Homo sapiens: one gene and its partners. Changing the gene in region 5 together with the main gene of any one other region gives a genetic interaction. Each region holds a gene or a part of one and is shown on either strand. Other genes may lie near its edges.

The links.
Region 1: changes in SREBF2 (region 5) and MRM2 together harm fitness more than expected from each alone (negative genetic interaction), as found in Homo sapiens cells (one large-scale study listed by BioGRID).
Region 2: changes in SREBF2 (region 5) and XRN1 together harm fitness less than expected from each alone (positive genetic interaction), as found in Homo sapiens cells (one large-scale study listed by BioGRID).
Region 3: changes in SREBF2 (region 5) and EIF2AK4 together harm fitness more than expected from each alone (negative genetic interaction), as found in Homo sapiens cells (one large-scale study listed by BioGRID).
Region 4: changes in SREBF2 (region 5) and EAF1 together harm fitness more than expected from each alone (negative genetic interaction), as found in Homo sapiens cells (one large-scale study listed by BioGRID).
Region 6: changes in SREBF2 (region 5) and EXOC3L2 together harm fitness less than expected from each alone (positive genetic interaction), as found in Homo sapiens cells (one large-scale study listed by BioGRID).
Region 7: changes in SREBF2 (region 5) and PTGDR2 together harm fitness less than expected from each alone (positive genetic interaction), as found in Homo sapiens cells (one large-scale study listed by BioGRID).

The regions. Positions count from the first base shown.
Region 1 is NC_000007.14:2,236,451-2,239,205, forward strand, and holds part of MRM2 (rRNA methyltransferase 2, mitochondrial), read right to left. Parts: intron 1-2,755. UniProt on the Homo sapiens protein: S-adenosyl-L-methionine-dependent 2'-O-ribose methyltransferase that catalyzes the formation of 2'-O-methyluridine at position 1369 (Um1369) in the 16S mitochondrial large subunit ribosomal RNA (mtLSU rRNA), a universally conserved modification in the peptidyl transferase domain of the mtLSU rRNA.
Region 2 is NC_000003.12:142,417,038-142,420,537, forward strand, and holds part of XRN1 (5'-3' exoribonuclease 1), read right to left. Parts: intron 1,845-3,500; coding exon 1,778-1,844; intron 1,573-1,777; coding exon 1,467-1,572; coding exon of another isoform or gene 1,433-1,466; exon of another isoform or gene 804-1,432; intron 193-803; coding exon 103-192; intron 1-102. UniProt on the Homo sapiens protein: Major 5'-3' exoribonuclease involved in mRNA decay. Required for the 5'-3'-processing of the G4 tetraplex-containing DNA and RNA substrates. The kinetic of hydrolysis is faster for G4 RNA tetraplex than for G4 DNA tetraplex and monomeric RNA tetraplex.
Region 3 is NC_000015.10:39,965,115-39,968,614, reverse strand, and holds part of EIF2AK4 (eIF-2-alpha kinase GCN2), read right to left. Parts: intron 2,930-3,500; coding exon 2,772-2,929; intron 1,272-2,771; coding exon 736-1,271; intron 1-735. UniProt on the Homo sapiens protein: Metabolic-stress sensing protein kinase that phosphorylates the alpha subunit of eukaryotic translation initiation factor 2 (EIF2S1/eIF-2-alpha) in response to low amino acid availability.
Region 4 is NC_000003.12:15,430,598-15,434,097, reverse strand, and holds part of EAF1 (ELL-associated factor 1), read right to left. Parts: intron 2,012-3,500; coding exon 1,875-2,011; intron 1-1,874. UniProt on the Homo sapiens protein: Acts as a transcriptional transactivator of ELL and ELL2 elongation activities.
Region 5 is NC_000022.11:41,867,605-41,871,104, reverse strand, and holds part of SREBF2 (sterol regulatory element-binding protein 2), read right to left. Parts: intron 2,495-3,500; coding exon 2,313-2,494; intron 217-2,312; coding exon 70-216; intron 1-69.
Region 6 is NC_000019.10:45,228,408-45,231,907, forward strand, and holds part of EXOC3L2 (exocyst complex component 3-like protein 2), read right to left. Parts: intron 3,468-3,500; coding exon 3,356-3,467; intron 1-3,355.
Region 7 is NC_000011.10:60,853,151-60,857,221, forward strand, and holds the start of PTGDR2 (prostaglandin D2 receptor 2), read right to left. Parts: upstream 2,801-4,071; 5' UTR 2,719-2,800; intron 582-2,718; 5' UTR 573-581; coding exon 1-572.

The DNA of each region.
Region 1 (2,755 bases), on a different chromosome or scaffold from region 5:
GGCTGAAGCAAGAGGATTACTTGAGCCCAGGAGTTCTAGTCCAGCCTGGGCAACATAGCAAGATCCTGTCTCTACAAAAAAATATAAAAATTAGCTGTAGTCTCAGCTACTCAGGAGACCCAGCTAAAATGAGGCGTGAGGCGTCCCATTTTCCTGGGGTGAAGACTGAGGGGTTTCGCCTTTGAAAAATGAGGTAATCTTCAAAATACCTGGACTTCCAATGTTTACACTAGGAATGAAACACGGTCCCTTTCTCTCCCCCTACCGTTGGAACAGCCTTTCTGTTAAGCAGACTGAACAAGAAAATCTGTGACTGTACCCTTAGCTTATCAACTCTGACAATTTCTCAACAGAACTACGGCCCTCCTCAGTGGAGGGGACTGTTGGGGAGATGGGGGCGTTGGGCTTGTGAAGAGGGGGCTTTGAATGTAGGTACAGAGTGAGAAGAGGGGGAGGCAGATGCTGAGATCAGTTATAGGCAACAAGTCTTGTTTTACGTAAGGTGACACAAAGGCATCTTTTTAGTTTTAGCAAACTGGTGTTACTCAAATATCAGCAAGTTATCTTTGTGTGTCTTTGTGTGTGTGTGTGTGAGACAAGGCCTCACTCCGTTGCACGGCCTCAGCTCACTGCAGCCTTGACTTCCCCAGGTTCGAGCGACCCCTGCCACCTCAGCTTCCCAAGGAGCTAGGACCACAGGAACATGCCACCACACCTGGCTAATTTTTTGTAGAGACGGGGGTTTCACCATATTGCCCAGGCTGGTCTCGAACTCCTGACCTCAGGTGATCCTCCCCTTGGCCTCCCAAAGTACTGGGATTACAGGTGTGAGCCACTGCGCCCGGCCTCACGCCTCACTTTATGCTCCTGAGCTTTCACTCCTATAATATCCAGTATGTTACAACCTTCGGAAATTTCCACCGAAGGCAAACAGCTTTGGCTGCATGCTTGTGACTTCCGGGAGGACAAGCCCAGGCAGATCACGCTCACGCTCTCTCCTTCTGTCACTTCCTCCTACAAGGCACGCTGGGCCACTCTCCTGCTTCATCTCAAGAGCACTTAGGGGAACAGAAACCACTGAAATCAGTTACTAGGAGGACTCCACGGTGATAAGCTCAGCAATGAGAAAAGGAACTGACATTTCCAACACAAATTCACTTATTTAGTCAATAAATGTTGAGCTGAAAAACAATAAAAAGGCTTTCAGGCTGACCACGATGGAAGCACCAGGAAGCACCTCGAGGATGCTGGGAGGCAGAGGCGGGCGGATCACCTGAGGCCTGGAGTTCGAGACCAGCCTGGCCAACATGGCAAAACCTCATCTCTACTAAACATACAAAAATTAGCCGGAAATCACTTAAACACAGGAGGCAAAGATTACAGTGAGCCGAGATGGCGCCATTGCACTCCAGCCTGGGCAACAGAGTGAGGCTCTATAAACAAAAAAAAAAAAAAAAAAAAAAAATGCTGTTGAAAAGCCCGAAGAGGCATATCCCCGCCTAAGTATGGGCAGGGGCCACCCAAGGGGATGCAGGTAGACACCAAGAGTTCATGGCAAACCTACCGCAAACCAGCAGCGAGGCAGATGTGCAGATCCAGGGGGCCAGCATTCCATTTCTGCACTTTCAACAAGTCATGAAACCCTGAGCCTGTTTTCTCACCAATAAATGGGGACCAGTGTCCCTACTCTAAGGTATTTGGGAGAGACTTGGGAGAGCTCTGGGTGGACTGTCTCACCCTGTTCAAATGCCAGTGCATGCAGCTACCCTGGCTTTACAGCAGGAAACATAAATGGCAAGGATATTCACCACAGCACACGCATCCCAGCCAAAAGCCAAAAGCAACCTTGATGCCACAGTGAGGGAGCTGGTTAAAGAACCTACGGTGCAAGCACTACATGGAATAGGATGAAACTTTCCCAATGACGACAGTGTCTTCAGTTGCATGGGCGGTTGGCTGATCTCATTATTCAGGAGAACCTTTTTATATAGAAAATCTTACTCAAAACCCTAAGATACAAAACAGATGAAAACTGTGTCTCAGCTTCATCCAGAGCAAAGAATCCATAGCCCTGGCCATGAAGCCTCTTCTAGGTTCCGGACGGAGCAGCCCCAGTGGGGCCACCAGGAAAGCCCCAGGGCTTATGCGACTTGGAAATTTAGCTGTGCTGTTGGGGAAAGATGTCAATACATCATTAAGAGTAGCCGGGCACCATGGCTCACATCTGTAATCCCAGCACTTTGGGAGGCCGAGGTGGGCAGATCACCTGAGGTCAAGAGTTCGAGATCAGCCTAGCCAACATAGTGAAACCCTATCTCTACTTAAAAAAACAAAAAGAAAAAATTAGCTGGGTGCGGTGGCGGGCGCCTGTAATCCCAGCTACTTGGGAGGCTGAGGCAGGAGAATCGCTTGAACCAGGTAGGCAGAGGTTGCAGTGAGCCGAGATCACACCATTGCACTGCAGCCTGGGCAAGAGTGAGACTCCATCTGGAGGGGGGGGAAGAACAAAAATAATAACAATAATAATTATATATATATATATATATATATATATATATATATATATATATATATATATAATACATATATGTATGTATCATTAAGCAAAAATAGCTCCAATAGGCTGCAAATTAGCAAGAAAAGTATGGCACAACATCGCTTTTGAAAATGTGAGGGATCTATGCATGCACAAGCCTGGAAGGATGCACACCACCATGCTGGTGCTGGTACCTGCGGGCGGTCTCATGCGAGGTGA
Region 2 (3,500 bases), on a different chromosome or scaffold from region 5:
TTACCATAAGTAGAAATAAAAGGAAGTGCTTCCTAAATAAGACTCTAGTAGAATGAATCATTATAAAAAGACAAAACTTTATTTTTGTTTTTATTCTCTCACCAGCTCCAGGACTGAACTCCATGATAGTAATAGTGCAAAATCCACTGTATTGCCTGAACATAACATGCAGCTTGATCAGCCAGAAAGTCACTGAAAATAGAATATTTTCATTATAACATATTTTCTGAAGACAGGCCCGTGTCTTTAGAGCACGGTATCTGCTGATACAACATTTTACCTCAGATGATTTATTTAATCAATGAATTAGCTATTTATGGCTAAAAATTATAATCCTAAAAACTCCAAAATATTTTTAAAAATTACATCCTGTCACATGACAGTTTTCCTAAACCAACTATCAAAATAGATAAGTCTGTTATTCATATTTACTCAGTTAATGTACCACTCCCTTGGTCCAAAGGTTGAAGATTTACCCAATGAAGCTTTCCATAGTGACACTACCACTCTCTTAAATAGTGGGGGTGAGACGGGAGAAAGGGATGGGAATCTTCTTTACATGGGATGATATCTGAGAGAAGCAAAGCAGCAAATCAGGAAGATCTTAAAATTTGGTCACAGAAGCTAGAATGCTTTCAGAAGTGCTGTATGTGAACAATATTCCTTCTAATCCTTTCTTTGTCAAAAACCAAATGCCATCTTCTAAGTTTGGGTAAAATAAGTCTTCAAATCATCAAAACAAAACAAAACAGAGCCCTGGGCTAAAGGCAAAAATATTCACTTAGAAATTACATAACTACATATTTCTGGGAGGTAGTTTTTTAATATGAAAAATATTGCTTTTTTATTATAAAAGAACTATTTCCTCAGGAGTGAAAATCTGGACAATGAAGAACAGCATTTTTATCATCTTATAGCCATCACTTTTACATTTTTAGTGTTTCAGTCTTTTATCTATATCTAGGTTTTTTTAAGGTTAATGAGAGCATACTGTATGTATGATTTCATGTCTTGCCTTTACAATTTGTACTTAATAATGTACTATAAGCATCCTTCCAAATTGTTATGAACTTTCTGCAAGTACCAGTTTAGCAGTTCTGCAGATTCCGGAGATGGAAGAGGTGACAGAGATGGTGACTGTAATGAAGAAGCAGTGGCCAATTATGATGAACCTTCTTATTGGACATTTAGATTATTTCTAATTTTTTTACTATTATAAACAACTTTGTAACAAAAATCCTTATACATAAGGATCATTTTCTCTTCAGCAATTTTTATCACAGGAATATAATACAAGTCAGAATTAATACCATCTTCTCCAAAACCAGACTAGTTGAAACATACACAATAATTCATGAAACCAAAAAATCCTTTTTCTCCCACTACTTCATCAAAATCATATTTTCTGAATAACTGCAAAATCTAATTTTTTCTATTTTAAAATAAAAGCATTGGCAAAAACGTACTCAGATACTACGTCAACCCCCATCTTCGTCATGTAATATGTTCTTTTATATTGTCTAAACTCAGTTTCAAATAGGTCATCATCTTCAGTCTCATCTTCTAAATTATCTGGGGAAAAAAGTCAGAAAGATAGTGACTGACAATTATGAATAGCCTGTTTTTCCACCTAATGATTTGATAAATGCATATCCAAGTTGATGCTTATATGCTATCACAGAAATCTGTTCCACCCAAAATTAGTAATAATAAATAAAAGGTATAACAATTATCCTGTCAAAGTAGTAACATATCAAAACACATACTTCATACTTACCCTTAGAAGTTATCATTTCGCCTTCATTTTTGTCTAAAGCAGTCCAACACAGAGAATTTTCCTGGCCCTGTAAATTGTAAATCAACATAAAATGAATGGCAAGATACATTTCAAAATGAGATGTCATTTCTCTTCCATGCACCCATTTGCTTTTCTATAGTTCTTCCATGTTATAACATCCTTCATATCCTGCCCATCTGTTTTTCCTCCCTTGTGATCTCAATCCTTTCTCTCCTCTATTCTCTGATTTCCTGTCTACTGCCAATGACTCTCTTTAGTTCTTCCTACTCCCTTATCCCCATTTCCTTTCTTTCATCCAACTTATGGCCTCTACCAACTTCCTGTGTCTGGGCTATTCCTGCACAGTGTCTCTAAAGTTAGCTGCATATGGCTGGAAGACTGGTGAAGTTTAAGTACTGAATTGTGGTGGGGGAGCCAGGGATTACTGACAGGTAAGTTTTGTGTGTACAGGTTCCCAAAAAGTTGCAGAGCCCGTTTTCTTAGGGGGGGAAAAAAAAAGACACACACACACACACAAAAACCAGTGGAATGCAGACTGACTGCTGCCAAGTTCCAGTGAGGAAGAGCTAAGCAGCGAGAAGGACTACACTAGAGAAAACAAGGACAGTTGCCCCTCCTGGAGCAAGAGTCATTAAGTTTGAACCTAAATAGAACCAGTACAGCAAGGAGAGTAAGAAGCTCAACAGAATCTTGGCCGGGCACGGTGGCTCACGCCTGTAATCCCAGGACTTAAGGGAGGCCAAGGTGGGCAGATCACGAGGTCAGGAGTTCGAGACCAGCATTACCAACATAGTGAAACCCCGTCTCTACTAAAAATACAAAAATTAGCTGGGTGGTGGCGCGCACCTCTAATCCCAGGTACTCAGGAGGCTGAGGCAGGGGAATTCAAGCGAACCCAGGAGGTAGAGGTTGCAGTGAGCCAAGATCGCGCCACTGCACTCCAGCCTGAGTGACAGAGTGACATGCTGTCTCCAAAAAAAAAAAAAAGAAACTCAGCAGAATCCAATAATTACAGAGAGGCTGAAGAATTTTTCACAAGAGGTTTACTTTTCAAGTTAACACAAGACATTCTTTGGAGATTATCAGAGATGCTCTGCAGGGTACTATCATATTCTAATTGATTCTATTATTCATTTATTAAGCACATAACATTTACTAGATATTGTGCTATTAGGCTGGCACAAAAGTAATTGTGGTTTTTGCCATTACTATTAACTTAGACTATTGTATTTTATATGTAAATCATTTCTAGAGAAAAATCACTGATCTAGTTAATGTCTCATATCATTAAACACTATAAATATCCACATTTTAAAAACTAGTCCATTGTTTTAAAATAACAATTTTTTTTTAATTAAAAAAAAATTGCCAGGGGAAAGTGTGAATGCAGTCCTCCACTACCATAAGTCACGCAGTTCAGTTTCCCACATTTGGCGAAATCGCAGGGCATCAGCACATCCAGAGTGCAATGGATAAACCTCGCCCTGGGAAAACTACCTTCATGATCATGGTATCCTCCCTGTCAGGTTTTAAATAATTGTTTTTCTTTTTTATGAGACAGAGTCTCACTCTATCAGCCAGGCTGGAGTGCAGTGGCTCAGTCTTGGCTCACTGCAACCTCTGTCTCCCAGGTTCAAGTGATTCTCGTGCCTCAGCCTCCCAAGTAGCTGGGATTACAGGTGTGTGCCACCACATCCAACTA
Region 3 (3,500 bases), on a different chromosome or scaffold from region 5:
GCAGGATAGCTGGACCAGAGGAGCATCTGGAAAAATCCAGACTGAAGGGATCTTATCTCCCATTTAACAGAAACTGACAGAACTTAGCTCTGGCTTGGACTGAAAACAGAGGCAGGACGAAATTAGAAAACACTTAAGTGAAGGACCTGGACAAACATCTTAGGCCTGAGGAAACATCTCAAGAAGGGTTCTCCCAAATTGGATAAAACTTGGCTTTGTAATTAAACATGCACCTGTGATTTACAGGTATTGAAACTCCTCTGGCTAGACTAAGGAAGTTATTTGCATTCTACAACTTAAATGAATGAGACAGCCAATGAAGAATGGTTAAGAAGCACAAGGGGCAGAATCTCACTCCCAAAGCTGTTTTTGAATAAGGAGCCTCGTCTTTGACCCTTTAGGAACCAGAGCAAAGGTCAGTATTTGGAATACCTAGGGCATTTCTCACCATAACCATCTCTATTGACTTCCAAGAGTATCCCATCAGTCCCCCAAAAGGAGTTTGAAAATCAAGTGTGAATTCCAAGTGAATTTCAGAGAATGTGGTAGTTAAGAGAATCACCAACCTACATGAGAAAACAGAACATATGAGACTAGGACAGGATTGGGAGAGCAAAGAATGAAGTCCTGTTCCTCACTTCTCAGCTTCCACATCACTTAGATGTCTGGCACACTCCAGCACAATCAAAAGTACAGGAGTAAAGTGCTATTAGAGAGAATCTCAGTGATACTCACTTCTTTAGAAAATCTTGAAAGTCAGCTGGTAAGTCACTAGGGATGGTCACAGGGTACTCTCCACATTCCTGTCCTTGGCTGAGGGACAGCAGCAGAAGGCCAAGACGCCAAACATCTCCTTTCTTCCCCGTTTTATAAGGCAGAGCATTGTCACTAAAACGAACTCGGGTTTGCTCAAACACATCCTCCTTGCAAATGTCTGCGAGGCGCTTAGAAATGCTATAGTCCGTAATCTTGACGGTGCCTTCTGCATCCACCAAGACATTAGATGCACTCAGGACCTTATGCACCACAGAATTGCTGTGCAGATAATCAAGGCCTGACAGGAGCTGAGCTGTGTACCTGCGAAGCTGATGCACAGGGATGGGGCCTGAGTGGCTCAGGTGTGCAGCAAGAGAGACCCCACTAATGTGCTCCACTAAAATGTCCACCACGATGGAGTCGTCTTGCTCTTTGAGATTCATTGCAAGGTAGCGTACTACATTTGGATGGCTCAATTTTACCAGTGAGTTGAATTCTGTTTCTGTTCCTTGAATCTGATAAGTTAAAAAAAAAAAAAAAGAATATTGGGCCAGTCAACATTAACTTGGGTTTCATTTCAAAAGTGAAGTATTTGATCATACAAGATGGGGGCATAAAAAAACAAAACCAAAACCAAAAGTGAAGTATTTGATAGAAAATATACTTTCAAATGAGAGGAGAACAAATATGCCCTAAACTGAATCCTCCCCAAACCATATGGTCAATCTAATAGTTCATAAAGATGGAAAAAATTTAGCTAATTCTCAACTTCTCTAATCTCAAAACCTACTATGCATATACTACAAAATTAGTGAACAGTTTTTAAAATAAAATTCTTTTGAGGTATAGCCACTAGAAAAAACAAACTTTAATTTAAAAATAACCTTTTCTGATTAGCTTTGTATTTGGGTTTTTAAAAATATAGTATATGATTTGAGCAGCAGAATAATGGCCACATCCTAATCCTCAGAACCTCACATGGCAAAGAGGAGTTAAGGTTGAAGACAGAAAAAAAAAATCTTTTCTGATTTAATAAAGATCATTGTCAACATTTAAAAAATTAGTTTGATAGAAAATACCCACATGTTATCTATGTGGTCACCACCCAGTGATAACTCAAGATTTTGGCACATTTACTTTCAGTTTTCTTTCTATACTTAAATACACACACATTTCTGAACACCATGCTTTATCTACGTTTTTGTAAACCTTGTTATTATGTAACACTGCAATATGCAATACTGAATGTTCTCCTTATGCTTGGTTATAAATCATAATTTATAAATTAACTTAAAAATCCTCCGGTCCCCCAAAATTCAGTTTTGAAGCAGTATTTTTCTTTTCTTTTTTTTTTTTTGGAGACAGGGTCTTGCTCTATCACCCAGGTTGCAGTTCAGTGGCATGAACACAGCTCACTGCAGCCTCAACCTCCTGGGCTCAAGCAATTATCCCACCTCAGCCTCCCGGGCTCAAGCAATTATCCCACCTCAGCCTCCCAAGCAGCTGGGACCACAAGTATGTGCCACCATGCCCACAGATTTTTAAATTTTTTGTAGAGACAGGGTTTCACCATGTTGCCCAGACTGGTCTCAACCTCCTGGGCTCAAGTAGTCCTCCTACCTTGGCCTCCCAAAGTGCTGGGATTACAGGTATGAGTCACTACACCCAGCCCTGAAGCAATATTTCAAGAGTAGGGAAAAGAAGAATTGCAAAAAAACCCAATTATGAACTAGTATTTAGTCCCAGTTGGAAAGATGACTGTTAATGCCATACTAAGGGCTAAGAAAGGAGGTTAAGAAGGCAGCTGGAAGTGCTTTGATCATGTTGTGAAAGTTCTGAAACCAGAGGCAAGGGGCAAAGAGGTACTGGTCCTTCACTGTCCTCCCTGGTCAAACAGTTCTCATACTGCTCTGGACCATCTCTGCAGGGCAAACAAATGCAGGGCTATTTTGTTCTGTCATCTCCTAAAGCCTGAGATTAGGCCTTTTGCTCAGTCAGCCACCTTGGATGCTTACCTGCTTTTTGCACTTATCAATCTTCTCTTTTTCTTGACTGGTAAGGAATGGACCCATTTTTTTCTGCCACTGAAGGACCCACTCATACAACAAGACAAAGCCACCAGTGGCTGTTTCCAAAGCATTGTAGACTAATTTTCCAAGTTGTTCATCACTGCCTGCACATTAAACAGAAAGTGTAATTAAATCCCACTGGTATGTTTTCTCTTGGGGGAAGGAAGGGAGGGGGTAATACACATTCTTTAGTTCAACAATGGATACCATGCGCTAACTATGGAAAATAGGACTTTATGTAATAATGTCCTTTTGTAAACAATTTTTGATATTTAGCAATATACCTGAGTCCTAAAATAATTTTTTATAAGGGGCAAGAATCTACAATGAGATCTTAGTATCAGGCAAATAAAGAGACCAATGTTTGGCCAGGCGTGGTGGCTCACGCCTGTAATCCCAGCATTTTGGAAGGCCAAGGCAGATGGATCACCTGAGGTCAGGAGTTCGAGACCAGCCTGGACAACATGGTGAAACCCCGTCGCTACTAAAAATACAAAAAAATTAGCCAGGTTTGGTGGCGGGCACTTGGAGTCTCAGCTACTTGGGAGGCTGAGGCAGGAGAATCGCTTGAACCTGGGAGGCGGAGGTTGCAGTGAGCCTACAACGCACCATTGCACTCCAGCCTGGGCGACAAGAGCAAGACTCTGTCTCAAAAAACAAAAGAGGCCAGTGTTT
Region 4 (3,500 bases), on a different chromosome or scaffold from region 5:
ATGTATAGCAAACAAATGTAGGATATAATGAAACTATGAAAATCCATTTTACTAGTAGAAAATACATTCATGCATCCCTTAACAATGAGGGTAAGTCCTGAGAACTGCATCATGAGGTGATTTCATCATGCAAACAGCAGAATGTACTTATGCAAACCAATATAGCATATAATTTTTTCACATGAAAACCCAAATGTCCCACCACCATAATTGAATATCAGTCATTCCCCCTACTTGATCTGCAATGCCAATATCAAGTGCCGTATATCAGGTTTCCATACATGCTCCATTAGAATCTTAAGGGACCACTGTCATATATGTAGGTCACTACTGACCAAAACATCATTATGTAATTATAATCATGAGTGCATGAGTTCCTAAATAAAGTAGCTCCTAAAATATTGCCCAGCTTGAAAATTTTTTCCATTATCTATATACTGCTTGTTCATTTCATCACATGCCAGCTCTTGCTGGCAGACAAGCAGAATTCCATCCCAAGCTGAGAATATTCTATCAGTTAACAATTTCTTTTGTAAATGGACTAGCCTAGTGCTTCTAAAACTTTTGCTTATGCACAAATCACCTGGTGATCTCTGCAGATTCAGATCTCATAGGTGTTGAGATTCTGCATATCATCTAGGTAATATGATACTGTTAGTTCCCATATCACACTGAGTAGTAAGGGAATATACCACAACCATCAGATATTGGAGGAATATCGGTAGCACCTGGTTCACTGTAGGTAATGAATACAAATAAATAGAGTGGCAGGACAGGAGCAAGGACTCTGCAGCACACTCTCCGGGGTAGGTCAAGCTCTCTAACCCTCAGTCTCCGTACCTTTTTTTTTTTTTTTTTTTTTTTAGATAATAGCACCTTTCGTACTCACTTCGGCAGCACATATACTAAAATTGGAATGATACAGAGAAGATTAGCATGGCCCCTGTGCAAGGATGACACACAAACTCATGAACAATTCCATATTTTTAACAAAAGAAGTAAAAAATAATAATAACACCTTTCTAAAAATTACTTGTTAGATAAAACAATGCATATAAAGCATCTAGCAGAGTGCCTGGGACATGATACCCCCTCAATAAATGGTACCTATTTTTATTTTCTGTGGAATGAATGAATGAAAAAAAAATGGCTTAACGAAGCATAAAAAACATCAGGTTGTGACAATCTTTACAATTTAATTACTGTATTATAATAATTACTGTATTATAAGTGAGCTATGATTATGCCACTGCACTCCAGCCTGGGTGACACAGCAAGAGACCTCGACTCTTTAAAAAAAAAAAAATACTGTATTATATGGTAACAAATAGAACCACTAGGTTATTTCTATTTATAGAATGAATTTTTATTTTCAAATAAACTCTAACTGGCTTCATTTTAGACATGTAGCAACTGTTGAATTAAAGAGTTCACTATATTAAAAAATAGGCAAAGTTTTATTTTGGTATTATAGTAATCTCAAATGTATCTTGTAAAAAAATTAATGTTTTCACTCCAGTTAAGTATAGTATATATTGCTCCTTCATAATTATAAGTCTATAAGTTATCTTATCCCTTAGGTGGTACTGTAGCAATCATGAGATTAACAAAATAGGCTTAATTATAAAGTATATCCCCCTTTCCCTAATGGTTCCCATGTTTTAGGTCTTAAAAAACATTATTTCTTTTTATTGCATTTGAGGAAGACATATTTTACTCTGAGCACATATTTACATATTTTGTCTGAGCACAGGTAGTGTTAAGATTATTGATAGAACACTATGAGCAAGCAGATGTTCACAACCTTATAAAAACTGAATAGATAACAGAGGTTTGGAAACATGATATAAACCTGCATCTGGCTATTCACATACCTTGTTTTCTTCACCTGAATGCTGCTACTGAGTTTTTCCAGCACATATTCACCAGTGTCATGATTAATAATAAGCACACAGTCTTTCTGGTAAGGCCGTTTGTTCCCCTTGAACACAGTCATGGGTGGTGTGGATCCCTATTTGCCACAAAAGTATAAGATGATCAAACTAAACATACCAGTTATGAATATCAACTGAATTTATAGATGACTCCACCTGATGAAATCTTTTATCAGAGCTATTCAAAAAGAACAGGTTGAACTGATTTCTATTTTATCTCCTTCTGGTTTCCGAGGCAAAAATAAAGGAGAAATAATATAGCAAGAATTTGTGAATGTGCAACGCGTTCTAAGTAATCAAAAAGGTAGTATAAAAGTTTTAATTACTATATACGTTCCAAGAGAGAAAAATTAACCATTACTTTCATTATACTAAGCAGAGTTATCACTCTGTATAGTAAAACTGTGAGTGATCTCTATTTCTTTGTCATTAGAGAGACCAGGGTTTCCCCTTCTCATGTCAAGCAACCAACAGAGCATTTTCCAAGAGAAGGTCATTATCCTGGTTGGCTCAGAATAAATAAATCATGTCACTCATCTGCCTAAGCCTTTCAATCACTCCTCAATTGCTCTCAGGCCAAAGGATAAAATCTTTAAACTAGCCACTTGGCCTTGCACTACCGGGCCCTTCCCTGGCTCTCCACCTCACCCTGCAGCATACTCCCCTGCGCATGTGCTTCAGAGCAGAAGGCAACTGGCTTCCCTCCTATCCTCAAGCTCTCTCCTGCCTCTGGGCTTTAACAAGGCTTCTGCCAGCTTTAACAAGGCTTCTGCCAGCTATATCCTGCCCCCTCTCTTTAAATGACCCAACCTCCAGATCTGCTCACAGATACTTCCTTAAGGAAGCTGTCCCTGATTTTGTAGAATAACTGCTATATTTTCTTGTATTAATTTAAACTCCAGACCATAAGCTCCACCAGGGCAAGAAATGTGCTTGTTTTGTTCAAGGTTATATACTTCATGCCTAGTAATGGGCCAATGTGTGGGAGGCATTTGATTAATATTTGTTGAATATCATATTTAATGCCTTGCTTAGAATAAAAAACTGCTTGGCTCTTTGACTCCTTATTTATATAGTAAAAATATAGAGCTAGAAAGAACTTTAGGGACCATTTTTCTAAACCTTTCATTTTACATATGGGAAACTAAGGTCCAAAGGGAGATGATGTAACTTGCCAAAGGTAACAAGTAATCAAACAGCAGTTTGAATGGGCAATTTTTCCTCACCACAAAGCTTTCCAGATCTCCCTGTCCAGAGACTTTTCATTCTGTCTCCAGCTACCGAGAACTTATGTTCCAGGACAGGGGTGTGACATGCAATAACACATGTTCACTAAGAGCATCATGTGACCCTTTGGTGCTTTGTCATTAGTGCTGCCTTGGGCAGAGCTTCACAAAAGTCTTTCTCTGCAAGGGTTCTTAATCCAGCTTTCAATTTAGTTCTTCATCCCTAAATCAGCTGAATGTGCCACACCTGTGGTTCCTGCCTGCCTTAACTCCTGGCTTGGTTGCCTCACACTCCTGAGCTGTTGTGGCCATATAATCAGCAGGGCACCTAGGGCTTTTC
Region 5 (3,500 bases):
ATCTCTGAAGACTAACACCTCCAGGAATAAAGGGGGAGGGAGGAGGGTGGGGGAGAAGGCAGCTCTTACTGGTACTTGAAGGGCAGCCGTCTGGATAGGGGTGGTGAGGGCGGTGAGGGCCGGGTTCTGGACCGCAGCCATAACAGGGCTGCCATCTGTCTTCAGTGTGGTCAAAACAAGGGAATCTGTCTTGATGATCTGAGGCTGGACCAGGACCTGGATGAAGAAGGAAGAAAAGTAAAAGGATGATAGCATTATCCTTCTGTTATGCATTCCTTTCTTACTGCATAGACCTTCCAAGAAAGAATGAGAAATGATATAATTTTTATGAAATTGAGAATAAAAAAATGAACAGGAAATTTCATAGAGGCCATTTCAAAAGCCGGCTATTTTGTACAGCCTGAATACCGGGTTCAGGTGGAGAAAGAGGGGCTAGCTAATGAGGGTCCTGGCTTTTTTTTTTTTTTTTTTTTTTTGCTGAGACAGGGTTGCTCTCTGTTGCCCAGGCTGGAGTGCAGTGGTGCAATCTCAGCTCACTGCAGCCTTGACCTCCCGGGCTCAAGTGATCCTGCTGCCTCAGCCTCCTGAGTAGCTGGGACTACAGGTGTGTGCCACCATGCCTGGCTAATTGTTTGTATTTTTTTGTAGAGACAGGGTTTCACCATGTTGCCCAGGCTGGTCCTGAACTTTTGGGTTCAAGAAATCCACCTGCCTCAGCCTCCCAAAGTGCTGAGATTACAGGCGTGAGCCATGGTGCTCAGCCAGGTCATGGGTTTTTAGGTTGAAAGACTTTCAAGAGGGTGGTGCCAGTGGCCCAGCAGGAGCAGAGCAGAGATGGGTAGGGTGGATGGCAGAGAGGAGAGAAAAGACTCAGGAAAGCCAGACACATGGCTGAGAAGCAAAAATAATAAACCTGATTTTTTTAAGATAAATTGTTAGTAAGAAAATATAGGCCAGATGTGGTGGCTCATGCTTGTAATCCCAGCACTTTGGGAGACCAAGGCAGGTGGATCATGAGGTCAGGAGTTTGAGACCAGCCTAACCAACATGGTGAAACCCTGTCTCTACTAAAAATACAAAAATTAGCTGGGCGTGATGGCGCGTGCCTGGAATCCCAGCTACTCGGGAGGCCGAGGCAGGAGAATTGCTTGAACCCAGGAGGCTGAGGTTGCACAGTGAGCCGAGATCGTGCCACTGCACTCCAGCCTGGGCGACAGAGCAAGACTCTCAAAAAAAAAAAAAGAAAAAAGAGGATATAGTCCACGATGATATATAACATAAAGACGTTTTTTGTGATTATAAAAATAATACACGTCCCCCAGCTGGGCACAGTGGCTCCCACCTGTAGTCTCAGCACTTTGGGAGGCCGAGATCGATGCACTGTTTGAGGCCAGGAGTTCAAAACCAGCCTGGCCAACCTGGAGAAACCCCATCTCTACTAAAAATACAAAAAACTAGCCAGGTGCAGTGGCAGGTGCTTGTAATCCCAGCTACTTGGGAGGCTGAGGCAGGAGAATCGCTTGAACCTGGTAGGCGGGGGTTGCAGGGAGCCAAGATCACGCCACTGCACTCCAACCTGGGCAACAAGAGCAAAACTGTCTCCAAAAAAAAAAAATTAAAAAAAAGATTAATAATACATGCCCCCCCTCCCCCCAACCCAATATATGTTCAGGATCCACAGCAGAAAATATGGAGAACAGAAAACTATGAAAGCCAAGGGCAGTGGCTCACGTCTGTAATCCCAGCACTTTGGGAGGCCGAGGCGGGTGGATCACAAGGTCAGAAGTTCAAGCCAGCCTGGCCAACATCCCGTCTCTACTAAAAATATAAAAATTAGCCGGGTGTGGTGGCACATGCCTGTAGTCCCAGCTACTCGGGAGGCTGAAGCAGCAGAACTGCTTGAACCCGGGAGGCGGAGGTTATAGTGAGCTGAGACCACACCACTCCACTCCAGCTTGGGCAACAGAATGAGACTCCGTCTCAAAACAACAACAACAACAAAAAAACACAACACAAAACTATGAAAAAGAAAATTATCTGGGAAATACCAATTTAGCACATTTCTTTCCAGTTTTATGCCCATTACATGTGTACGTAAGTGACTGCACCAGCCTTTCCTGAGTGCCAGTGTCTATCTACAGATATGGACTCAGCCAGGTCACTATACGCTGCTCACAGGTGCATCCTGGCGCCCTACAAGCTGCTTTGTGTACACTCTGGTTGGTCCTTCTTAGTATGTAGACCACATCTTCAACCAAGGACCAGTTAACAGCCCCAACCAGTGCCTCCCTGAATCCTTTCCAGCCACTTACCGGGACCTGCTGCACCTGTGGCGCAGCAACTGTCTGCACCGTAGCCGGGGCAAGGGTCTGCAGCGTGCCATTGGCCGTTTGTGTCAGCACCCGCTGGGCCTGTACTGTCTGCACCTGCTGCTGAATGGTGACCGGCTGTACCTGGGAGGATGTCACCAGGCTTTGGACTTGAGGCTGAAGGACTTGGGAGAAGAGGAGAAAGAAGGCACAGAGATGAGGAATGCATTCTGTCACTGCAGCTGCAGCAGAAACCTGAGGATGGAGTATCTCATAATGATTCCAACTCCCCACCTACTGCTGAAGATGATGTGCACAGCCATTTACAAGGTGGCTTAGACAACAAGAACATCCCATAAGGGCTGCATCAATTTCTGAGGGAACGAGTACAAATTGTTTTATTACTCTGGGTGCCAGGGTGGGGGAAAGGGAAGCTAATCAGCAAATGACTGCACCCAGCAAGGGAGTTAACAGATGTTGAGAATCAACAACTCCCTGGGGCTTCATTTTCTTCCATCCTTTCTGGACGGCAAGTGCACTTTGGGAGGACTGTCTCAGCTTTTTGCCTTTACATTCCCCCACCTGTCCCAATTCTTGAACTCCATTGAAGAACTATAAGATTCTTTGAAATTCAAAGCAATACTAATCTTACCCTGGGCTCCCCACAGAGTCAGAGGGAAATATGATGAAAAGGCACTGGGATGCAGCACATCACAGAAAGAACAGGCCCCTTTCAGTCATCCATTCCCTCAACACATACTAAGGGCCCAGCATGAGGCTTGCTACTTGAAGCTGCTGCACCTATATTAAAAGTCATATTCATCACCATAGTGGATGCTCAGATGTTTGCTGAATGAATAGTTCTCAACTGTGGCAGCTGAGATCTGGCTGCCGCCTAGCCAATTTCAAGCCTTATTCAAGTCTCCACCACTAGTTATCAGAATGGCCCTGTGTCTACTATGCTTGCTGGATTTTTTTTTTTCTTTTTAAGATGGGAGTCTCGCTCTGTTGCCTAGGCTGGAGTGCAGTGGCACGATCTCTGCTCACTGCAAGCTCTGCCTCCCGGGTTCACGCCATTCTCCTGCCTCAGCCTCCCGAGTAGCTGGGACTACAGGCGCCCGCCACCATGCCCGGCTAATTTTTTCTATTTTTTAGTAGAGATGGGGTTTCACTGAGTTAGCCAGGATGGTC
Region 6 (3,500 bases), on a different chromosome or scaffold from region 5:
TGGGGAGGGAGGCTGAGCCAGAAAACTTCTGCAGCCCTTCCCACTCCTAACTCTGTGGTTTGGAACTTCATATTAAAAGTCTGGTTTGGCCAAGCGCGATGGCTCACACATGTAATCTCTTTGGGAGGCTGAGGTTGGCGGATCACCTAAGGTCAACAGTTCAAGACCAGCCTGGCCAACATGGAGAAACCCCGTCTCTACTAAAAATACAAAAATTAGCTGGGCGTGGTGGTGCGTGTCTGTAATCCCAGCTACTCAGGAGGCAGAGGCAGGAGAATTGCTTCAACCTGGGAGACAGAGGTTGCAGTGAGTGGAGATCATGCCATTGCACTCCCGCCTGGGCAACAGGGTGAGACTCCAACTCAAAAATAAAAATAAAATAGGCTGGGCGCGGTGGCTCACGCCTGTAATCCCAGCACTTTGGGAGGTCGAGGCGGGTGGATCACGAGGTCAGGAGATGGAGACCATCCTGGCTAACACGGTGAAACCCCGTCTCCACTAAAAATACAAAAAATTAGCCGGGCGTGGTGGTGGGCGCCTGTAGTCCCAGCTACTCAGGAGGCTGAGGCAGGAGAATGGCGTGAACCCGGGAGACGGAGCTTGCAGTGAGCCGAGATTGTGCCACTGCACTCCAGCCTGGGCAACAGAGTGAGACTCCATCTCAAAAAAATAAATTAAAAAATAATAAATAAATAGATAAAATAAAATTAGTCCATGGTTTTAAGCTTCCTCCATCTAATAAGCAAGGGCTTAATTGTGTGTGTGTGCACGTGTGTGTATAATTAAATATATACATATATTTATGTATTAAATATATACATATATTTATGTATTAAATATATACATATATTTATGTATTAAATATATACATATATTTATGTATTAAATATATACATATATTTATGTATTAAATATATACATATATTTATGTATTAAATATATGTTATATATGTAATATATTTATATATTAAATATTAGTATAAGCTATATAATGTGTATATTAATAATTCATAATACGTTATTTATATATTAATAATTAGTATGTATTATATACTATAGCACATGAAATATGTAATCTATATTAACATATAAATATTAAATATAAATCAATAATACATATTATAAATAATATATTATAAATAATATAGATACATGTGACCAGGTGCGGTGGCTTATGCCTGTAATCCCAGCACTTTGGGAGGCCAAGATGGGCAGATCACCTGAGGTTGGGAGTTCAAGACCAGCCTGAACAACATGTAGAAACCCCTTTTCTACTAAAAATACAAAATTAGCCGGGCATGGTGGCGCATGCCTGTAATCCCAGCTACTTGGGAGGCTGAGGCAGGACAATCACTTGAACCCGGGAGGAGGAGGTTGCGGTGAGCCGAGTTTGTGCCACTGCACTCCAGCCTAGGCAACAAGAGTGAAACTCCGTCTCAAAATATATATATGTGTACATTATAAATAAAGCTATAATATAATATATTATTGTATATTATTTATAATATACACATTTATATGTTAATATGTATACACAAATAATGTATACTTAATATTTATATTAAATATAAATCCTATTATTACATATTATGATATGTATGAAGTATTATTTATATTAAATATTGTTTTTCTTTAGAGGCCACGTCTTGCTCTGTCCCCCAGGCTGGTGTGCAGTGGTACCATCATGGCTCACTGCAGCCTCACACTCCTGGACTCAATCCTCCCGCCTCAGATTCTTGAGTAGCTGAGACTACAGGCACGTGCCACCACACCCAGCTAACTTTTAAAATGTTTTACAAAACATTTTTGTTTTGTTTTGTTTTGTTTTTGAGATGGAGTCTCGCTCTGTCGCCCAGGCTGGAGTGCAGTGGTGCGATCTCGGCTCACTGCAAGCTCCGTCTCCCGGGTTCACGCCATTCTCCTGCCTCAGCCTCCAGAGTAGCTGGGACTATAGGCACCCGCCACCATGCCCAGCTAATTTTTTGTATTTTTACTAGAGACGGGGTTTCACTGTGTTAGCCAGGATGGTCTCAATCTCCTGACCTCGTGATCCACCCGCCTCGGCCTCCCAAAGTGCTGGGATTACAGGCGTGAGCCACTGTGCCCGGCCACAAAAGTTTTAAAACAGAGACAGTCTTGCTATGTTGTCCAGGCTGGTCTTGAACTCCTGGCCTCAAGAAATCCTCCCACCTCAGCCTCCCAAAGTGCTGGGATTACAGGTGTGAGCCACCGCGCCCGGCCAAGGGTCTATGTTTTATTGTCTTTTGGTCCCAAGACTCTGCTCTCAGGTTCTGCCAAACAGTTAGTTTAAGATTCTCAGATTCTGTGTTTCAAGAACTCCAAAGGCTGGGCTGCAAAGGTTCTCACATCTCTGATTCTCTGATCAAATGTGTTGTCTCGGCTGGGGTGACTCATGCTTATACTCCTAGAGCTTTGGAAGGCTGAGGCTGGAGGATCACTTGAGGCCAGGATTTTGAGACTAGCCTGGGCAAAATGGCAAGACCCTGTCTCTGCAAATTTTTTTTTTTTAAATTATCCAGGCATGGTGGTGTGTGCCTGTAATCCCAGCTACTCAGGAGGCTGAGGTGGGAAGATCCCTTGAACCCAGGAGTTCGAGGCTGTAGTGAGCTGTAATCATGCCACTGCACTCCAGCCTGGGCAAAAGAGGGAGACATCTGTAATTAAAAAAATAAAAAAGTATAATCCTCAATTTGATGAGTTTAAGGATCCAGATCTCTTTTCTATGGTTCTAGGCTCTTAAGTAGCATTGACTGATTTCTGTGGCTGGAAGTAGGACTGGAATTGAGACAGCAAACATCACTGTAGCCGGGGACGGCGTGCATGGCTGGGCCATTCTGCTCAGCGGTGTCTGTGCAGGTTCAGTAATTAACCATGTTTATTACCAGCCCTGCTTATATGTGAAGATCTTTGTCAGCCAGGCCTGATGGCACGTGCCTATGGTGCCAGCTACTGGAGAGGCTGAGGCAGGAGGATCGCTTGAGTCCAGGAGGTCAATGCTCCAGCCTGGCAACAGAGCGAGACCCTGCCTCAAAAAAAAAAAAAAAAAAAAAATCTTTGATGCTATACTTCTGTGAGTCTTTGGGCCTGTGAGCTGTAGTTCTGTGACTAACTTTCTTGTACTCTAAGGTTTGAAGTGTCCAGATATACTGAACCTTTACCAAGTGTCTCTGTACAGCGGCCTTTGTGTCTATGGCACATGGATAGAACTCAGAAGTTCGTAAAGGGAAAAGGGAGTTGGAAAGAGTGAAAGGTGGAGGGGACAGGCTTCCCAAGCCCACTGTGACCCCCTCCCTCCACAGCACCTCCTGCTTCCAAAATGCAAAGTTCCAGGTACCTTAACATCTGTGACGCATTCATCCTCCAAACCCCGCAGGGTGCCAGGGGAGAGAAGGGGCCCCAGCTCCCCATTCTCCAGGGCGGCCATGTCCACCAGCCCTAGGACCTCTCTGGGGATGGGGGTGAGAGAAAAGGAGGTCTGT
Region 7 (4,071 bases), on a different chromosome or scaffold from region 5:
GGGTTCAGGAGCAGCACATTGTAGTAGCACATAATGCGCCCGTCCAGCCGCGAGATGGTGTCCCGGAACACGAAATAGGGCACCGTGTTGAGCACCGCTAGTGCCCAAAGCACCAGGCAGACTTTGTGCGCCGCGGCCACGGTGCGGTGGTTCTGCGCCCACACCGGCCGCACCACCTGCAGGCAGCGGTCCAGGCTGATGGCGCTGAGCAGGAAGCCGCTGGCGAACATGTTGAGAAAGAAGATGGAGGAGTGCAGTTTGCAGAAGGTGGTGCCCAGCTCCCACGAGTGGCCCACGGCCAAGAAGTAGGTGAAGAAGGGCAGGGAAGCAGAGGCCAACAGGTCGGACAGCGCCAGGTGCAGCACCCAGGTGGTGACCACGGTCTGGCGCATGCGGCAGCCCACCACGAAGAGGATGACTCCATTCTCCACCAGGCCCAGCAGCGAGGCCAGCCCGTGCAGCAGCACGGCCGCGTGGTCGATGTAGCGGATGCTGGTGTTGCTGTGGCTCTGGAGACGGCTCATCTGCTCCAGGATGGGGCAGAGTGGCTTCAGTGTGGCGTTGGCCGACATCGTGGGGCTCTGCAGTGGAGGGAAGGAGGCGCCTAAGTTGGAAGTGCAGAGGCCACCGGGGAACCAAGAGAGAGGCCCGGAGTGGGACCCTGCCCAGGAGATGCCAATGTGACCCACGAATATATTGGGCGGTGGGGGTGGGGGGAATAATATCCCAGCATTGCTGTGCTTGGGCAAGTCATTTAACCTTCCCGAGCCTTTTTCTGCCTCTGAAACTTGGATGTCAGTCATAACATCACCTAGCTCATAGAGTTATTGGGAGAATTAAGTGAGTTTAATACATAAAAGCATTTAGAACATGGCCTGGCACAGAGCAAGCACTTTATCAGTGTCATTGTGATGATTATGGAGCAAATGGTCTAAGATCACACAGAGAAAAAGGAACAAGGTCAGGCCACACAGGACTCCTTTTTCCCATCCCCAGAGCACTGGCGGGTGAAGGAGGCCCCACAATTAGGGCAAGAGGATTCTGCTGGCCTGGGCGATGGAGATGCTGCCCCTTCCCACAGCATCCACAGCGCCCCCAGATGTTGCCTCTCTACAGATCCTCCATGCAGCTCCCCGCACTCAGTGGTGGCTGGTTAGATGTGCCGACCATAAACAGTGGAACCAGCCCCTCCTCTGATGGTTGGAGAGGAAATAAGATAAGAGCCAGGAGAGCTGGGGAGGAGGAACTCCCACATGGGGCTCTGGAGGCCCAGTGGGGCCAAAAGATCTCTCCCTTCTCAGGAGCAGCCACAGCAGCTCTCTCCGCCCCAGGAAACCCACCCCTGTTCATTCACTTACTCCATCATGCACTCATCCAACAAATAAGACGTGCATGCTTACATCCTCATTGAAAGCCCGAAAGACCATCTGATGTGAGGCTGGTCAAGACCAGTGAGGGCTGAGGAAATTCCATGAGGCTCCATGCAGGAGGTAGGAGGCAAGTAGCAGGGGACAGGGACTCAGGGTGTCCTGGGCACCAATGACACTCCAGGTACTATGGTAGGTCCTTCACATAGGTGCTGTCTTTCTGGCTCTAGAAAAATGGTGCTAGTACTCCATCCTATTTTACAGATGAGAAAACTGAGCCTCAAGTGGTTAAATAACTGGCCCAGAGCCACCCAGACAGCACAAACATGTGGAGGAGAAAGTTTCATGCTCAGCCTGTGCTCTTTCCTCTACCCCTACTCCAAGGAAGAGAGGATGGAGGAGGAGGAAGAAAAGCGGGAGAGGGGAGCAATGGTCTTCAGTACTCATCTTTCTAGGGAAAACACTGTTGGCCAGGATGAGAAAACCCACTCCCTTCCAGAGACCACAGTCCTTTGTAGAGTGGGGTTCTGGAATATCAAACTAGAATTCTGCTGGCGGAGGAGCCCCTTGGAGCTAGAGACCTGCAGGTAGATGGAAGAGGAGCCTGTGCTTCCTGAGAATGGTCATACTTCCTAGGCTTTAGAATGTGCAGAGCAGTTACTCTTGCAATGAACCTATGACACCCCATTTTTCAGAAGAAGAAACAACAACTTGCCCAGCGTTCCTCAGCTGCAACAGTGGGGCTGGGACTTCACTCCCAGCAGATAGCCAAGTACCACCCGCTGTCTGCCCTGAAACATTCCCTGCAGACCAGCTGCTGCTGATCCAAGTCCTATGGGGATGATCAGAGAGCACAGTCCTGCCACACCCTTGGGCACCACCAGATCAGTCCTTCTAACTCTATAGAGACAGCCCCCAGCCTCCCAGGATTCTCAGGAGCCAAGCAGCTAAGGTCCGGCTTTGGCAGGTTAAGAAAAAAAAAAAAAAAAAGGGACAGAGAGTGCAAGCTGTGGGAGTCCAAGACCTGGGTTTGAATCCCAGCTCCTCAGCTTCCTGGCTGCGTGACCTTGGGCCAGTTACTCTAAGCGTGCTGGTGTCATCTTCCCACCCAGACTGCTTGTGAATATTGACAGACAGTTGAGTGGTTTCCCCTCGTATCTGACATCTAGTTAATGCCTAAGAGAAGCTAATCCTTCCCTCCTCTGAGCACCAAGTCCCCTCCAGTCTTTGGTAAACTCAATCTTCTGCCATCCTAGCTGGTAACAGCCCTCTCACCTGGTAAAACTTTGCCTTCTTCTGTGGGTCTAGAGAGGGCACTAGGCTGCCCAACCCCTGGGCCACTCCTCCTTACCTGGGCACAGAGGGAGCACAGGATTCCAGCCCTGGAGGCAGTCAGCTCCTGACAGCAGCTAGACAAGAGGCAGCGGGCAGACAGAGGTGGGAGAGGGAGGCTGAGAGAGGAAATAGCTGTCAGCCCCAGTGCATGTGTGTTTAGGGGTGGGGTTGGGGGAGGCGGGGACAGCTGGAGAGTGAGTTGCCACACAGATGTTCAAATATCATCAATTTCCATCAATGCCGGCAGCCCCTGCTCCACCCATCCCCGCTTCATGAAGGAGACTGCAGAAGTCCAGAGGGCAGTGCAAGTGCACGTGAAAAAATCGATGTGTGCAAGAGAGTGTGAGCCCGAGTGTGACTAGGGGTGTGCTTTTGAGAGTGACCAGTGTGTAGGATAAGTGCGTGAGAAGGAGAATGTCTCATCCATCTGTCCACTGTTCCTGGGCTTCCATCTCCCGACACCAGAATCCTCAGAGAAGAAACCCCTCCAGCTGTTCTGAGTTTCCCAGGCAGTGTGGGGGCCTGTCCATGAGGGACCCGAGGGCTCTAAGGCCAGGAAAGTACAGTGGGGTAGTGGGGGCAGTGGCAAGAACGCAGTCCAAGAGGTCAGTCACTTCTGTTTGCTGAGCCCTGGGGTTGTCATCTGTGAACGGGAGCAGTAACATCGGCCTTACAGGCTGTGGTAAGGGTTGAATGAGATGGATTGCACAAAGCTCGTGGCACACAGTAAGTGCTTATAAAAATCAGCTTCCTTCTCCTCTGAGGGAAAAATGAATATAGGCTCTAAGGCAAAGGTCATATAGCTTTTATTTAAAACAGGCTCAATTTTGGGAGGCCGAGGCGGATGGATCACTTGAGGTCAGGAGTTCAAGACCAGACTGGCCAATGTGGCAAAACCCCTGTCTGTACTAAAAATACAAAACTCAGCCAGGCGTGGTGGCACATGCCTGTAACCCCAGCTACTTGGGAGGCTGAGGCATGAGAATCGCTTAAACCCAGGAGGTGGAGGTTGCATTGAGCCGAGATCACACCACTGCACTCCAACCTGGGTGACAGAGTAAAAACTCCATCTCAAAAAAAAAAAAATGGAAATTTAAACTAAAAAACAAAAACAAACAAACAAAAAAACACACAGGCTCAAAGCCCTAGGATAAGAGAAGTTTGCATTTCATTGTTCCCTAACTCCTTACTCTCATTTGCTGACCAAGCTTCCTGGGGTCAGGACCATCCCTTCAACCTCAGCATCTCAGCACCTAATGGATACTCATTAAAACATTTTAAGAACTCAATATCCCTGTATCGAGGCAAAGGCACCTCCCATGAGATGGACAGCACAAGCATCTTCCATTTAGGCCTAGTCTTAACGCAG